Linked DNA regions of Homo sapiens: region 1 is linked to region 2. Evidence: fine-mapped expression QTL. A gene starts in region 2. The other region holds a variant in brackets. All regions are shown on one strand. Distances are between the middles of the regions. Region 1 has its middle 56 kb from the start of FDX1. Region 2 holds the start of ARHGAP20 (Rho GTPase activating protein 20).

What was found. PIP is the estimated chance that this variant, and not a neighbour inherited with it, causes the effect. A credible set is the group of variants that fine-mapping cannot tell apart.
Region 1: its variant is the best candidate, but not a certain one, in a credible set for the expression of ARHGAP20 in monocytes after LPS (Quach 2016, PIP 0.61).

The regions. Positions count from the first base shown.
Region 1 is chr11:110,483,736-110,488,129 of GRCh38, reverse strand. No RefSeq gene overlaps it. Among named protein-coding and RNA genes, the nearest start is that of FDX1, 56 kb to the right of the region's middle. The variant A/G (reference allele first, on the strand shown) is at 1,852.
Region 2 is chr11:110,710,581-110,714,974 of GRCh38, reverse strand. ARHGAP20 (Rho GTPase activating protein 20) reads left to right here and starts at 2,538. Exons shown (of 15, transcript NM_001384657.1): 1 at 2,538-2,848. The coding sequence starts at 2,744. RefSeq lists silencers at 2,427-2,586, 2,607-2,666 and enhancers at 2,190-2,691, 3,674-4,319.

The DNA of each region.
Region 1 (4,394 bases), 230 kb after region 2:
TTTTTAAAGATGGGGCCTCGCCCTGTCACCCAGGCTGGAGTGCAGTGGCATGATCACTCCTGGCTCAAGCATTTCTCCCACCTCAGCCTCTCGAGTAACTAGGACCACAGGAGTGTATCAACATGCCTGGCTCATACTATTCATAATATGAAAAATGCCCAACCATAGAAGAATTGCTAAAGAAACTACAGCAGGAGAGAAAATTAAGCAGCCATTAAAACTGATTATTGCAAAGTATCTTTAACACTATATGAAAATATTCAGGCCACATGAAGTAATAAAAGCAGGACATAAACATTTTATACATTGTATTTGTTTGACTATGGTAGAAAAAAGGACAATAAAATATTTCAAAAGAAAATATTACAAAATATTAAGGTTTTTTTTTGGTTTTTTTTTTTTTTTTTGAGACAGAGTCTTGCTCTGTCACCCAGGCTGGAGTGCAATGGCACAATCTCAGCTCACTGCAACCTCCACCTCCCAGGTTCAAGTGATTCTCCTGCCTCAGCCCCCTGAGGGCTGGGATTACAGGCGCCTGCCACTACGCCTGGCTAATTTTTGTATTTTTAGTAGAGATGGAGTTTCACCATGTTGGTCAGGCAGGTCTTGAGCTCCCGATCTCATGTGATCTGCCCGCCTCGGCCTCCCAAAGTGCTGGGATTACAGGCGTGAGCCACCGCACCTGGCCCAAAATATTAAGTTTTACAACTGCATTTTTCTTTCTGTATTTTCCAATGCAAAAATGACTTTGTATGTTTTAATAATTGGGGAAAATTAAAATAACTGTTTTGACCATGGAATACTATGCAGCCATAAGAAGGGATGAGATGATGTCCTTTTCAGGGACATGGATGGAGCTGGAAGCCATTATCTTCAGCAAACTAACATAGGAACAAAAGACTAAACACTGCATGTTGTCACTTATAAGTAGGATCAGAACAATGAGAACACATGGACATACTTGGTGGGGAACAACACACACTGGGGCCTGTCAGTGGTGGGTAGGAGGGGAGAACATCAGGAAGAATAGCTAATGGATGCTGGGCTTAATATCTAGGTAATAGGTTGACCTGTGCAGCTAACCACCATGGCATACATTTACCTATATGACAAACCTGCACATCCTGCACATGTACCTCAGGACTTAAAAGTTAAAGAAGAAAAAAATGAAATAATTGGTTTCGAATACAACAGCCTCAGATTGCCCTTAGTGATGACCTCCCTTTGTCAGGGTTGCAGTGTGGTGACTGGGCACACCCTCTCCCTCCAGCTGGCCCTGAGCTACTCAGAGGGAGACCAGGTAGGCATACCCCAGGCTGGCTGTCAGCAATTTTTGGATGGTTTCTAGCCAGGCTGCCCCATGGAAATGTTCCAAATATTTTTCATCAGTTGGCTCCCTCAAAGAGTGAGACCAACATTTCCAACACGGCGGCCTAAATAATATAAGCTCCATTTTCTTGATTTAGGGAGAAAAAGTGAAAGAGTGTCCATGGACATTAGGGCAGTCTCCTGTTTCCTAGCCTTGGAGGTAGAGTTAATAGATATAAGCATGATCTGCAAATTCCCTGGTAAGATGTGCTTCACAGTGCTACGGATCTAATTAGTCTGACTAAGAGGGACATATAGCTAAAATCACCAACCCTTCCAGACAACAAACGGTTGGCTGACCAGAAACCAGCACCCAAGAACCAAGATAACTCCTTGCATTGCTTCAGCTCATGAGCTACATGCGTGATTAGAAAAATAAGTTACTCACCACAAAAATCACAGAGCAAGAGACAGGAAAGAAGAGGAAGGTTTTCTTCTCCCTGCAACTAAATATGCATAGATAAAGGAGAAGCTAGGGTCAAA[A/G]CGTTGTCAGTGTGACAAAAGCTGAATTTCTGCTTGGGATGGAAGATCAGGAAATGATTTTTGCAGTTTATTAATAATCTAATCATAGTCTTTGCAGCTACCATCATGAATGAGTAATATCCTTTCCCACAGACACAGGTGTCAAGTCAAAGAGAAATGGATAAGCAGACACCATGGGCGTCACGGGCCTCTGCCTTAGGGATCTCTGCATAAGACAGCACCAGCATAATTTTCAGCAACAGGCTGGCTGGACATGTCTTCGTGATGCTGCTGCAGGAGAGTGAATGTTCCTGAATCCAGGTGCAATGGGAAAGCACAAATTTCCTTGGCATTTCCCATTTTCCCCACAGCGGCCTCTTCCTCATTTATGTATCTCTTCTTTCATCTTCTCTCCTCCCCTTCAAACATATTCCTCCAACCCTAGATTGCATTGCTGTATTTCCTGCCGAGCCGTGGCTAGATAAGAGGTTAACTAATAAAAGTATAGGGTGTCCACAGCTCCCCTGCAGAGGCATTCACTAATAATGAGAGGATTCTTTGTGGAGGGAAAAAAGACACTTTTTTTTCCCCATTATGAAAGGTAGCTGTTAATATTTTAGCATAATTCCTTTCAGTCTTTATTCTGTGCATAATTTTTGTTTGGACTTTTGAGTATAGTTGAGATGACATTGTATGTATGATTATAGAACCTACTATATTTTCATGTAACAAGCATTTCTCGAAATTATTATAGACTCATAGGAAGGATCATTTTTTTTAAGGTACATGTAATATTCCACTCAGTTGATGGGCCATAATTTACTGAACTCTTTCTCTACTGTCATAATTCCCCTTAAGGGAGGAATTGTTCTAAACTTAGAAAAATGCTTTTAAGTCCTAAAAGTAACAATAATTGCTCTATTACTATATAATAGTAATAATAATAATTGAATACTCACTACATGCCAGATATTCTAAACATTCTCTATTTATTAACTCATTTAATCCTCACAGCAAATGTTAAAAGACAAGTACTATTAATTTTACTATCATGTGGGAGATAACAGTTTGCAAACCTGTAAAATTAAGGCATGTTCCAGAGAACAAAGGGAAGTTTCCAGTTTTATAGCAAAAGTTCCTGCCCAGCTACCCAATCAAATCTGTTTATCCAAATGAAAGTTTCAAACTTGCCTAGTTTTCATTGGTTGGCACAGCTGAGTTCTGATTGGTCAATACAACTGATCCTTGATTGGTTGATATAGCTGAGCCCTGATTAGTTGGCTCTGGTGAGCTCTGAAGTCCCCAAGTTAAGCAGAGGTGAGATTTTTCTGGAAACTCAGAGTATGGCCATTTGGCTTTATTTTTAAATTTAGGCCTACTTAGCCACCTGGGCTCCATCTTGAAGGACTGGCTTAGCCACCCAGGATCCATCTCGAAGGACGTTTTTAGGTTCACATTTGTTCACAGTATAGAGATGGCAAGGAACTTGCTGAAGCTCCCAGCTAGGAAGTAGGAGAGTATAGCTTTTGAATCCATGCACTTTGGCTCCAGCACTTGCGTACTGAAGTACAAGATGGATGATAAGAGGCAAGGGTCCATTTGTGAGCTGGAGTCACAAATTCAAGTTCAAGAACAAGAGCATAACTGCTCAGCATGAGACAAGGAGAGGAACTCTGTTATTGAAATGCAGAGGGTGGGAGGGGAGGTGGAAAATGAAGGAAAAGAGAGAAGAATCAAGTGATGATGGGGAAGGGACCAAGAGAAGAACTTGACAGTGGTGGGAAGCCAAAAATAGGACTTTAGAGAAAATCTGTCTAAAGCAGATTTTTAACAATAGCTTTATTGAGGTATAATTTACATAAACTATATTTGAAGTATACAATAAGTTGAAACTATCACCACAATCAAGATAGTAAAAATGTCTATCACCCCAAAGTTTCTTTGTGTTCCTTGTAAGCTCCCAATCCAATCCCTGCCTACCCAGGCAACCACAACTTCTTTCTGTCATTATAAATTGATTTGCATTTTCTAGAATCGTATATCTATATATGGAATCATATACTATATACTCCCTTTCTGTCTGGTATATTTCACTCTGTAGTTATTTTGAGATTCATTTATGTTTTAGTATGTATAAGTAGTTTATTCCTTTTAATGCTGAGAAGTATTTCATTATATGAATATGTCAAAAATCTGTGTATCTGTTCCCCTGTTGATAGATATTTGGGTTGTTTCTAGTTTGGGGCTATTACAATAAAGCTGCTCTGGACATTCCTGTTCAAGTCTTTGTATGAACACCTGTTTTCATTCCACTAGGAACAGAATTACTGAGTTATATTTTTTGTTGAACTCTTTAAGAAACTGTTTTCCAAAGTGGTCATTCCAGCAACATATAAGAATTCCAATTCTTCAATATCCTAACCAATACTTGATACTGTAAATCTTTTTAATGTTAAATATTCTAAAGATATGTAGTAGCATCTCATTGTGATTTTAATTTGCATTTTCCTGAGCATGTTTTCATGTGCTTATTTACCATCCATATCTCTCTCTTGATGAAGTGT
Region 2 (4,394 bases):
AAAGTCAGGAAGATTTTTCTAAGGTAATTATTGATTCAAATCTGGGAGATTTATTTCCTCAACAAATATTTACTGGGCATTTACTATGCACCAAGTATTAGATATTTAAGTGTAAAGTAATAGGGGTTGGAAATATAGAAGGAAAACTTCCCACGCAATGCAAACAGCAGGTTCAAAGTCACAAAGATGTGAGAAGGCAAGGCGAGTTCTTGGAAGGTGACTTCTTGGCGAATTCAATGTGACAGGGAATAGGGTGAGAGTTGAAGAGGAGCAATAAATGACAAGAGAAATAAGTGGAGGCAAGGATGTCTGTTTATAGGCAGTCTTGCATATCATACTATGGCATTTGAAATTTATTCTGTAAACACAAGGAGCCAAAGAAGGGTTTAATCAGGGGAGTGATGTGATCAAATTTGTGTTCTTAAAACACGATTCTGGTGATAGCATTAATCTGAGCAAAGTCAGTTTTCTTTAGGTATGGGACAGTTTTCTATGCAAACCAAAACTAATGGGTTTTGAAGTAAAAGCACTTAAAAATTAAGAAGTAAGAGTGAGTTTTCCAAATCTGCAGTAAAATACTACTTTGATTTGGAACATGTAGTATTGATCACAGATCAAACCTGTGCAAAAAAGAAGATCACAAACAGAAACATGGGACACTCTGAGTGAAACAACCAACTCTACCAGTCTGGCCCTTCTAAGATCTATCTCATAACCCTTGTATGCCTCATTAATTCCCTTAGCAAACGAACATTTATTGCACCAGACACTGCTTCAAGCACTTGGTATACGACAAAGAACAACAATAACAACAACAACAACAAAAGCCCACAAAAGATTCCTGCCCTCTGGAAGCTTGCATTTCTCTGAGATATAGATAATAAACACTAAACATACTAAGTAAATTACATGATATATTAGAAGGAGATAAGTGTTATCGAAATAAAACAGAGTAAGGAAAATTGGGAGCGTGCATTTATGATAGGAACCAAAAGAGGCTAACGAGTTGTAAGTGGATGATTTCAGCAAGGAATGAAAGGAACTGCAAAGCCCTCTGCGTGTAGAATTCATGACAAACTCTATGGTGGGGGCAAAGTCCTGTCGCTGCACATGGGTCTCAGCTGCAAAAAGAGAGTAGCCATGAAAAACTGTGTGTGTATATGCACACATACATAAACACAATAATAGATGATTTACAAATCATACATGTGATTTATACGTGTGTGTGATTTATACGTGTGTGTGATTTATAAAGCCTATGTAAGCCTACTTTAAACAGTGTGAGGTGGACAAGGCTTAAAACGGGCTGGAACATTTTCCCCCTATTATTTCCACAATAAACCATTCCTGGGCATGGTGGTGATGTGTGCGCGCGCGAGTGTGTGTTGGACAGCATCCCTTCCTTGGAACAGAGCCGGCCAGAGCCCTATTCTTCTACAACCTGTCCTAATAACAGCCTAACCTGGCAGGAACCTCGATTTTTTTCTTCTTACCACAAAAGCAAACCAAACCCCTTCCACAACCTAATATCATAGCGTGGTGTCCTTCCTCACTAATCCGCCACTGCTTCTCTAGTCCTGACTCCAAGGGAAGAATGCCATCTACCGAATCATCCGTACCAGTCAACCAGCCCCGCAAAGTGCAGCAACACTCAGCTCAACGCGGGTCAGCTCCAAATCCTCTCCCTCTGATTATTCTTTGGCCTTTAAAATATTTTTGCCTCTATTTGGGCTGACAGGAAGTTATGCTCTCGGCGCAGATATCTGATAAACACTTCCACATATTGTAGCCTTCTCAATAGCTTAGCCAAATTTCGGCGTCCTCGCTCTGTCTGCATTTTCCTTCATTGCTCTTTCACGTTTGGAATGCCCCCGTCTCTGCAGCCTGCAGACAGCGGAAACCGCGGGTGCAAATGTGCAGGGGCCGCTGACATGACCGGCTGCAGAAGCCCACTCAGGGTTACCCGAACAGGCTAGCGTTCGGGATTGCACAAGAGGTCAGGCGATGCTGTGGGCTTCCAAATTTGTACAGCTGCGACACTCTGCGACGTGCCACCCTATCCCCAGTGGGGTGGGGTGGGGGATTCCCTCCGCAGTCCGCTGAAAGCGAGGCAGGAATCACTGCAACTCCTCTGCTCAGGCTGAGGTCGCCACCGCTCCGCGGATGCACGCGCTGCAGGGGCGCCTTCCGCCGCGGGCACGGCGCGGGAAGGGATGGGGTCTGGTGGGAGTGGGCAGGTGGCGGGAGAGGCGCGTGTCCGTGCACTAGAGGCCCCCGTGCGTGACACAGGCCGATGAGCTCCTGCGGGCTGCACCCACGCGGAGTCACAGACCGAAAAGGTCAGCCGGTGGCCGGTGTGCTAACATATATAGAGAGACGCCCGCCAGGCGCGCCGCAGGCTGGGACGAGGCTAGGAGGGCCCAGGCTGGAGGAGGGCTGAGGAGGGCTGCGGGGGCGGGCCCCGGCGCAGGGCGCCCGGAGCGGAGGGGGCGGGCCCGAGGCGGGGCGGGCCGCGGCGCTGACGGGCTGTCGCCGCTGCACTCGCCTCCAGCCCGCGGTGTCGAGCGCAGGCGGAGGTACATGGCCCCGACGGGAGGCGCGCGGCGAGCACCCGGAGCTCGGCTCCCTGCCTGAGCACGGCAGCCGCGCCTCCGCCCGCGCGTCCTCGCCCCTCCGGCCGGCAGCCCGCGGACATGATCGTGTAGCCTCCTCCTGGGCTGGGATTTGTTTGAAGATTTTCTTCATGGAAGCGATGTCCCCCCAGCAGGAGACTCTAGGGGGACAGCCGGGGCGCTCCTCTTCCCTGACAGGAGTGTCTCGGCTCGCGGGAGGCAGCTGCACCAAGAAGGTGAGGACGCTGAGCGGGGGCCCGTGCCCTCCGCCGCCGCAGCCCCCACTGCCGGCGCGCGCCCTCCGCGCCCGCCACAGCAGCGCGCTAGGCGGACGCCGCGGGAATTTGACGCTCGAGGCTCGCGGCCCCTAATGAGAGTCCCAGAACACTTCCCGCCCTTGACGGCCAGCGGCAGCGCCGCCGCCTCCCGCAGAGCGCCCGCTTCTCCGTTTCTAGAGCCTTAGTCTCTCCTCGAGCGACCTCGCAGCCTCCCTCCCGTCTCCATCCGCCGCCGGTTCTGCAGCCCGGCTCCTCCCTCAGTCTAGGCGCGCGGGCTGTAGTGGGCGATCGCCTTTCCCCGACCCCTCGCCGTGCCCCTGGGCCTCCCGAAGTGGCCTGGGCGAGCACTGACTGCCCTTTGGCGGTGTCAGCCCCAAAGTCAGGGCCGGCGATGTCTGCCCGGGAGCGGCAGCCGGCGCTGAAGAAGGTAGGCAGCGGGGCTGCGGCGCTGGTGGGCTCGGCCCCCTCACCTGCCCGCCGAGGCGCGGCTGCTCCATAGCAGTTTTCGGGGGGCAGATATGGGGAGTACTGCCCCCCACACCAGGGTCCTGGATGATTCCGGGTCTCCCAGGTGGGGGTCACAGTTTGAGGGGCGACTGTGGATGATAACGCTCGACACTACGGGGACATGTAGGTTCGGCTGGGCCTAGAACCGAGCAGGGTGGGGGCGGGTGGGCTGTGGTTGGGGGTCCTGAGGGCTGAGGTGGGGGACCTTCTCCCTGCACTGGTCCCTGGCCCCTGGGACTCTGGCCGGGCTGGATAGGGATCCGGGTGTCGGTGTGGGCGTGGGGGCAGCGCGTGTTCCCTGTCAAAGCTGGGAGAGGGATGCAGGTGACAACTTGTAGCGTTCCATTCCGATAAACACGGCCGCTGTGCTGCGGGAGGATTCCGATCCGGGTCAGGTTTCGCTGGAACGGTTCCCTGAGCAAGTGCACGTGGGCCGCGGGCTGCCGGCCTCTGCCGTTTCGCTCCCTGAGGAATTGATTTGGGTGTTTCTAGCCCTGTCTGCCTGTCCCCCGCCTCCCCACCCCCGCTTCCAGCATAAGACTTTCCGATATTTTGCCTTTTTTTTTTTTTTTGCCTTGTCTTAGTGGTGCCCTTCCAGCTTTTCTGGAAACAAGTTGCGATTAGAGGCATCTTCTAGCTTTTCCTTAAGAAATATCTTAAGGGATTGCATTTGTTTCATTAGAGACTTAAAGGGGTTACGCAGGTTCCCTGCTTGTCTTGATTTTACTGCCTTTCATAAATCTTCCCACCAGGATCTTAGGTTGGCTAGAGGTCAGTTGAAGAGAGGTGATCGGTGTGCCGAGTATAGAAATGTGTGGGAGTTCCCAAGGACCTTGACCGTGTCACGGAGCCATCTAGGGGTGTCCGTGAACTTGATGATGTATGGGCTGTAGTGCCAGCTCAGCCTTTGATGTATTGAGGCTGCGGTTTGTCCTTGTCGCTTTTCCCCTTCGGAGATGGAGGGAGTGTGTGTGTGTGTAGTCAAGTCTTCCCAAAT